2 linked regions of the Homo sapiens genome follow. The protein of the gene in region 1 interacts with the protein of each later gene in a pairwise test. Each region holds a gene or a part of one and is shown on either strand. Other genes may lie near its edges.

The links. Proteins that work in one complex are often made in the same cells at the same time.
Region 2: the proteins of PRR16 (region 1) and NOD2 interact in binary tests that used the Homo sapiens proteins (3 or more experiments, as listed by UniProt).

The regions. Positions count from the first base shown.
Region 1 is NC_000005.10:120,467,171-120,470,902, forward strand, and holds part of PRR16 (protein Largen), read left to right. Parts: intron 1-3,732. UniProt on the Homo sapiens protein: Regulator of cell size that promotes cell size increase independently of mTOR and Hippo signaling pathways. Acts by stimulating the translation of specific mRNAs, including those encoding proteins affecting mitochondrial functions.
Region 2 is NC_000016.10:50,699,974-50,703,705, reverse strand, and holds part of NOD2 (nucleotide-binding oligomerization domain-containing protein 2), read right to left. Parts: exon of another isoform or gene 3,629-3,732; intron 1-3,628. UniProt on the Homo sapiens protein: Pattern recognition receptor (PRR) that detects bacterial peptidoglycan fragments and other danger signals and plays an important role in gastrointestinal immunity.

The sequences.
Region 1 (3,732 bases):
GAATGTTGCTATTCATCATATTCAGTATTCTGGCAGCTTAAAATTAGTACGTGTTAAATATAAACTGCTATATTTAGAATTCTAATTCCTTTATTGGCAATGCTATGCTTTTAGACCATAATATATTTTAATATAAATTATCGGCGAGCTCTTCTTAACTTGCAACAGAAATTAAAAATAAAAAAGTAGTTATGACTATATCACTATGGCAGTCATCATATAGTATTTATTTTTTCTTTCTGCTTTTAAAAAATATCTAGTTAAAATGCAATCTTCTTTAATTCTGTTCTTTGTTTTTGTGTAATTTCTGCACCAACAATATTAAACTTTGGTTTGAGGTTACTCTGAAATTGCTTTTCTTCATAGAAGTTTTCTGGGCTTAAGTCATCTGAAAACTCAGGTAGTAGGATAGAATCAAACATAATAGTAATTGCTTGAAACACTTTAATAAGTAGTGACAAAACTCTAGTCTGCTCAGCAAGAAGAGTTGTTATTTTGGGTATCTGTTTTATGATTATTTAGTTATAATTACTTAATCAGTTATAATTGGATTATATATTAGAAGCAGAGGAACAGGCTTTCTAGAAAGTCAAAGAGCAGCCTTATTCTACTCTCAGAATTTAGTAAAATCTCAAATAATTTGACTTTTCAGAAATAATATGGGTCCTTTTGTTTTCTATGCTATTAATATATTGGAAAAGCCTTAAATATAATTCAGTATACTTATTGAGCACCTACCATGTTCCAAGTACTATAACACCTTTTAAATTGCTACCAAGATGAATAAGGCATAGTTTCTGGTCTCAGTGAGCTCCAAAGGTTAGTTAGGGATATATTTATCCTGTCTTCCAACATCAGCAGTATAAAAAGACATTGTGGCCTTTAGTGGCCACTCTCACTGCAGGCTTGGGGAAATCGAGAATTGAGAATGAGAGTGAGTATATGTTGATTTATAAAATGATGTGTGCTGCATACTTAGTAGTATGGCAAGTCTTTGATGAAGAAATAAGCTTAAAAAGATGAAAATATATGAATTTTAAGAAATTTACAGTTGACTTAGATTGTCATGGTTAACATAAATGGATCAATACCATATACAGGAGATTACATATTCAAATGTTGTAACTAAATACTGAAGATTTCCATGAAAGCTAAGTCTTTTGGAGAAATGGAGAGTTAAAAAGGAAGATTTTGAATTCTTCTTTTTCTTAATGTAAATAGGGTTTTAAGAGGTAGTCACAGGTAAAAGGAAATAGGTTTGGACTACAAGAGTAATCCATGTTGCATTTTTCTACACATTGAAAAAAAAGAAGAAAATAGTGGTGAAACTCTAGAGTTTTAGTGATAAAATTAACCATAACTGGTAGAGTAGGTGTGAGTGATACTTTTTCACTAAGAAATGTAGAAACAAAGCAATTGCTTTTTAAAATAGTTCTCAAATAATCTAATGCCTTTGAGTAGCAATATGCCTGTTCTTTTATGAAGATCTCACTGGTAAACTATTTTGCATTAAATGCTGGTATTAATATGGGATCACATATCTTATTGGTCAGAGTGACACTGGAATCTGTAATAATCAGCCTTTTATCTGGAAACAAAACTAATTGCAGCTTTAGCTGGATTCTCTTTTAGTTTAGACTTGTTATAACCTTGAGCTTTTCTTGTAGTGTTTATTTTTATGATTTCAAGTAACAAGGCTACTATATGAGTTGAAAAACATATGTAAATAATTTCTTGAGAGGCTTTCTGAATAGACATGACTCTAACAGAGAAACTAAAATAAAGTTGTTTTGTTGTTGCCTTAGAATCACTCAGTGACTGGATCTCCATTGGTGAGAAGTATGTCAGCATTGTTGCCATGGACTGGAAAGCACCCATAATTTGTCTTACAATGGCATAAACTGAAATAAATTTAAGTTGAATTTTGAACAATTTGAACCCCATAGGAAACAGTCTGATTTGAACTGATGAAAACAGAATTAACAATTATCTGAAAAATATTTTCACTTCTAAATGTTCCCTCTTTTAATGTCTTAACCACTTGATGTTCTATAGTTTATTGTCTGGAAATTCCTACCGAGTATTTTTTGGTTAATGAGCCCATGCATAAAAAATTCGTTACAAGAAAAAATTATAGAGAATAATCTCGGAACTATTTTCTTTTTGTTTGAGACAGTATCTTGCCCTGTCACTTAGGTTGTAGGGCAGTGTTAGAGATCTTGGCTCACTGCAGCCTCCATCTCTTAGGTTGAAGGAGTCTTACCACCTCAGCCTTCTGAGTAGCTGGGACTAGAGGCATGCGCCGCCATGCCTGGCTAATTTTTAATTTTTTTTTTTTTGATAGAGATGGTGTCTTGCCATATTCCCCAGGCTGATCTTGAACACCTGTCTTCAAGTCATCCTCCTGCTTAGGCCTCCCAAAGTGGTAGAATTATAGGTATGAGCCACCATGTCTGGCTTGAAGTATTTTCCAAGTTCTAAAGTTGTGTATAAATAGAATTTAGTAGTTCTTTTAATTGTAGCAATAGTCATACTTTTACTACTTTATACCACAGTCTACCTCCCCAAACTGTGGTATATTTACCAAATGCTAAAATGCTCTGAAATTTTTCTTTACTTAGGCATGATGGCCTAGCAGTTACCAAAAATAATTTTGAGAACATAGAGGTAGCCAATAATCATCCATCACTGTCTATTTCCAATGAATTAAAACATTCAACACTTAGAGAATTAGCTGATAAGAAATTCAAGCAGCCTTAAAGTAATAGATAGTGTGTTTCAGGCAACAGTGAAGTAATAGATAATAAAGCCAGTGTAATAGGTTTCATTATTACCTGGATTATGTTATTTTCATCCTTGCTTCTCTGAGGATCTCAGGTACTTAAATCTAAATGTAGGAAAAAAGATAGAAATGCAAGTTTGAGCAAAACATATTTTCCCAAACTATAGAACTTTTCTTCTGTAGAGATAGTTCTTGAAAAATTTCAGGGGCAATTTTAGAGATTTAGAGTAATAAAATTCCAGTAGGTCGCTGATTCAACTCTGATTGAAATATACATGACTGACATCAAGCTGCAAATACAAAGTTAACAAACAACAAAGGGCACTATTAAAAAAATCAAATTTATTTTTTCTGATGTTAGGAGCAGCACATGAATATTATAGAAAGTTTGCAAAAATCTAAAGAAATATAAAGGAGAAAACAAAAATTATCTTTAGTACCACATAAAAATAAGTATACTAAACATTTTGTCATATTTTCTTTTAGTCTTTTTGTATGCATATTTTAACATAGATGAAGTTATACAAAGTTATAAATTATAAGCAATGACATTTTCTACTTTCTTGAATGATATAGATCGTAACTATTACACAGATTTGCTATAAGTTACTTCATACTTCCCTTAATATTGGGTATTCTATTTATTTCCAGCTTTTCATGGTTATTAAACGTCACTAGAAAGAGCAGTTTTGGCAATATGAATATCTAACAGAGGTCTTACTCTCTGCCAGGTACTCTTCTCAGCGCATTTATTTATATTAAATTATCTAATTCTCAAAACAGGTAGATGAGGAAGTTACTGATATTGCCCATTTTACACATAAGAAATCTGAGGTCCGAGATAGTAAGTCATTTGCCCAACTCACTTGTCTTGTAAGTGGAGAAGTGAAGCTTCATTGCCAGGTAGCTTGGTGTCAAAGAACAGCATTAACCGCCAAGCTCTTTCACGT
Region 2 (3,732 bases), on another chromosome or scaffold:
TCTTTTTTTTTTTTTTTTTTTTGAGACAGAGTCTTGCTCTGTGACCCAGGCTAGAGTGCAGTGGTGCGATCTTGGCTCACTGCAACCTCTGCCTCCCGGGTTCAAGCAGTGCGATCTCGGCTCACTGCAACATCTGCCTCCCGGGTTCAAGCGATTCTCCTGCCTCAGCCTCCCGAGTAGCTGGGACTACAGGCACATGCCACTATTCTTGGCTAATTTTTTGTATTTTTAGTAGAGACGGGGTTTCTCCATGTTGGCCAGGATGGTCTCGATCTCCTGACCTTGTGATCCACCTGCCTCAGCCTCCCAAAGTACTGGGATTAAAGGCTTGAGCCACTGCACCCAGCCTAATTTAAGTGACCTTTCTTTACACAGCTATTTTTGGCTTGCTACTCAGTTTTTCAAAATAGAACAATACATTATTTGGGGATTTATTTTAAAAGATGCTAAAACATTAAAGAAAGGCAAAGAGATGATTTACACAAAAGTCAAGCCAGTGTTTACCTCTAGCAGTTGCAGTTAAAGAAGGCCCCAGGTACTGGCAACATCCTGTTTTTTAACCTGGGTGATGGGAACAGTTTACACTATACATATGAAATATACACACTCTTCTGTATGCATGGTGCATTTCCCAATTTAAAAAATGTTTAAGTTAATATTGTTATAGGAATCAGGCAATTCAGAGCTCAGTCTGACACCTCAGCCCTATCAACTTTAACAGTTGCATGAGTCAGACGGACAGCTGGTATTACAGCTGGTGTTACCAGCCTCAGGTTTCCTAACAACTGCTATGCCCAACTGAGCAAGTTTACCACACAAAGCCCCCACATTTTATGACAGACAGAGAATAGCACAAGCTCTGGAGGAAAACAGGCCTGGATTCAAATTCTAGCTGGGCCGCTTCCCAGATGGGCGATTTGGGCAGTTTCTTCATTGTTAAGAAACAGTGTAGTCACACTATACCCTTGTGAGGCTTAAATAAAACAATACAGGGAATGGACTGGGTACAGTGTCTGGCACACAGTAGGAATTCACTCAGTCAATAGTAGCAATGGGTATTTTTGGAATTTAGTTCTTTAACTTGCATTTTGTTTCATTCCACAGCATTTTCTGTCCCTAACCTGCAATCAATGACAACTACTTCTTTATAGGAAATTAAAAGGCCATTTGGGAAGACATGTTGGTTGGATATACCACAAGCACCATCCAAATGAAATCAGTAAGGCCACTAAGGGAAGGCCACCAAATCAGAGTCACAGAATGTCAGAGCTCAAAGGGAGCTCAGAGAGAGCTGGATTCTAAAGGCTTAAACCTCAGGCAGTGCAATCCTTTCAAAATCTCCTGCTCTCCTCAGATCTGTTGTCTCCCATCCCTGCTACCCACTCAGCTCAGTCCCAACCTTCAATGTTTGCTTTTGCTGTCTATTTAGCCCTTTCTTAAGATGAATTCTTAGCTCATTAAAATTCAGCCTTAGATGGGCGCAGTGGCTCATGCCTGTAATCCCAGCACTTTGGGAAGCCGAGGGAGGAGGATTACTTGAGCCCAGGAGTTTGAGACCTCAACATAGCAAGACCCTGTGTCTACAAAAAAAAAATTAGCCTGGTATGGTGGTGCTAGCCTGTGTCCCACCTACTTGGAAGGCTGAGGCGGGAGGATCACTTCAGCCCAGAAGTTCGAGACTTCAGTGATTTATGATCGTGCTACTGCACTCCAGCAGCCTGGGTGACACAGTGAGACCCCCATCTCAAATAAATAAATAAACAAATAAATAAACAAATGCCTTCCTTCTTTCCTAATCTAGGCACCTAAGGTTGTAAATTTCCCCCTATGTCCTGCTTTAGCTGCATCCAATAGATTTTGATAAATAATATTCTCATTATTGTATGGTTCTGAATATTTTCTGATTTCCATCATGATTTCTTCTTTGACCCATGAGTTATCCCATTTCTTTTCTTCACCAATCCATGTACTTCCTCTGTTCACATCCTGTCTTCTCTGGGCCCTAGGGATCTAGGCTACCTTCTCCAAACCCCTCAGACCATCTGTACCACATCACATTGCTGAACTTTTAAAGATGACAAGACACAATCTTGTAACTTCTCAGATGGGCTGATTCAATTCCCCTAACAAATTATAAGAGAAACTAAGGTCAGTCCAATAACGAATATGTCTTCTGTACGTGCAACTAATCAGAGAGGACTGCACCACTTCTGCTCTGTAAATACCTAGCCATGTGAGCCAGCTTTAGTGCAGCCTTGAAGACAAATTTATTTATGTCATCAATCTCAATCTAGGGTTATCCAGACTCATGTGAACAACACATACATTTTTGGAAAACAGACAAAAACAAAAACTAAAATGTTCCCCAACCCAGCCCATTTTAACACTGCAGTGTCATTCTAATTCAATCATTCATTCAGTAACTCACTTATTTCATCAACAAATGTTTATGGAGTACCTACCGTGTGCAAAGCTCTATGAACACAACAAACTTTAAGCAAATATGTATGAAGCACCTAATAGATTCTGGCTGAATAAATGAATGATGGATGAATAAGTCAATGACCAGTGCTGGCCAATTGGTCCAGCACTGGCCCCCTCATTAACTACTGTGAGCTTATTCAAACTACTTTCCTTGGTCTCAACTTCCCGATTTATAAAGTGGAATGTTAATGATTGTTCCATCTGCCTCTCAGGAGCCCTAAGAATCACTATTTGGAAGAAAACAAAAGAGTTTCAAAAATACTCAGTGGTCATTTCTCTGACCTTCTGGTCTCTGCTGAGTTACTACATTCTCAGGGGCTGTTATATACCAACTCTGAACATCTATGATCTAATGCAATTTCATGTCAGAAATCCTACATAAACATTTAAGCTATATTAGTTTATAATATGCTATGTTAATTATAAAATAAATTCAATATACTGCAGTGTTATGGTCTGTTGTGCTGTTAATTTAAAACAGACAGAAATAAAAGTGTACAAGTACAGAGTATCACTCATAACAGAAATAATAAATAGCAGCCAGTGGTAATAGACACTATCCTAAGCATTACTCAAATTAACTCACTGAATCCTCCCAAGAGCCTTATAGGATAGGCACCATTTGACTATTAACATTGTTTTGTAGATGAGGAAACTGAAACAAGGGAGACTGAGGCTGGAGAGGCTCCATAGGGAAGCCTGAGATCACACAGGGTTGACCTTGAGCCTGCACCATTCTGGCTCCAGAATCTGAGTTCCTGGCCACCACACACTTCCTCTCGGCAGAAGTGTTCTGTTGGCCAGGCAAAGTGGCTCATGCCTGCAATCCCAACAGTTTGGGAGGCCAAGGCGGGAGGATTGCTTAAAGCCAGGAGCTGGAGACCAGCCTGGGCAACATAGCAACACCCCATCTCTAAAAGAAAAAAAAAAAATTAGCTGTTCATGGTGGTACAGCAGCCGTAGTCCCAGCTACTCTAAGGCCAGAAGATCACTTGAGCGCAGGAATTCAAGGCTACAGTGAGCTATGATTGTGCCACTGCATTCTAGCCAGGGTAACAGAGTGAGAAAAAGAAAAGAAAAGAAGAAAGAAAGAGTTGTACGTTTCCTGCCAAGAGTCAAGAGCAAATTTTACCTGCCTGGCTACCTTTTTAGGGGAAATCCCATGGACCAAGTTACCCCACAGGCTGACTTCATGAGGACAAATCAGTCTTGGTGACTAAGCACCCCTTTCCTGAGAACTCTGTGATG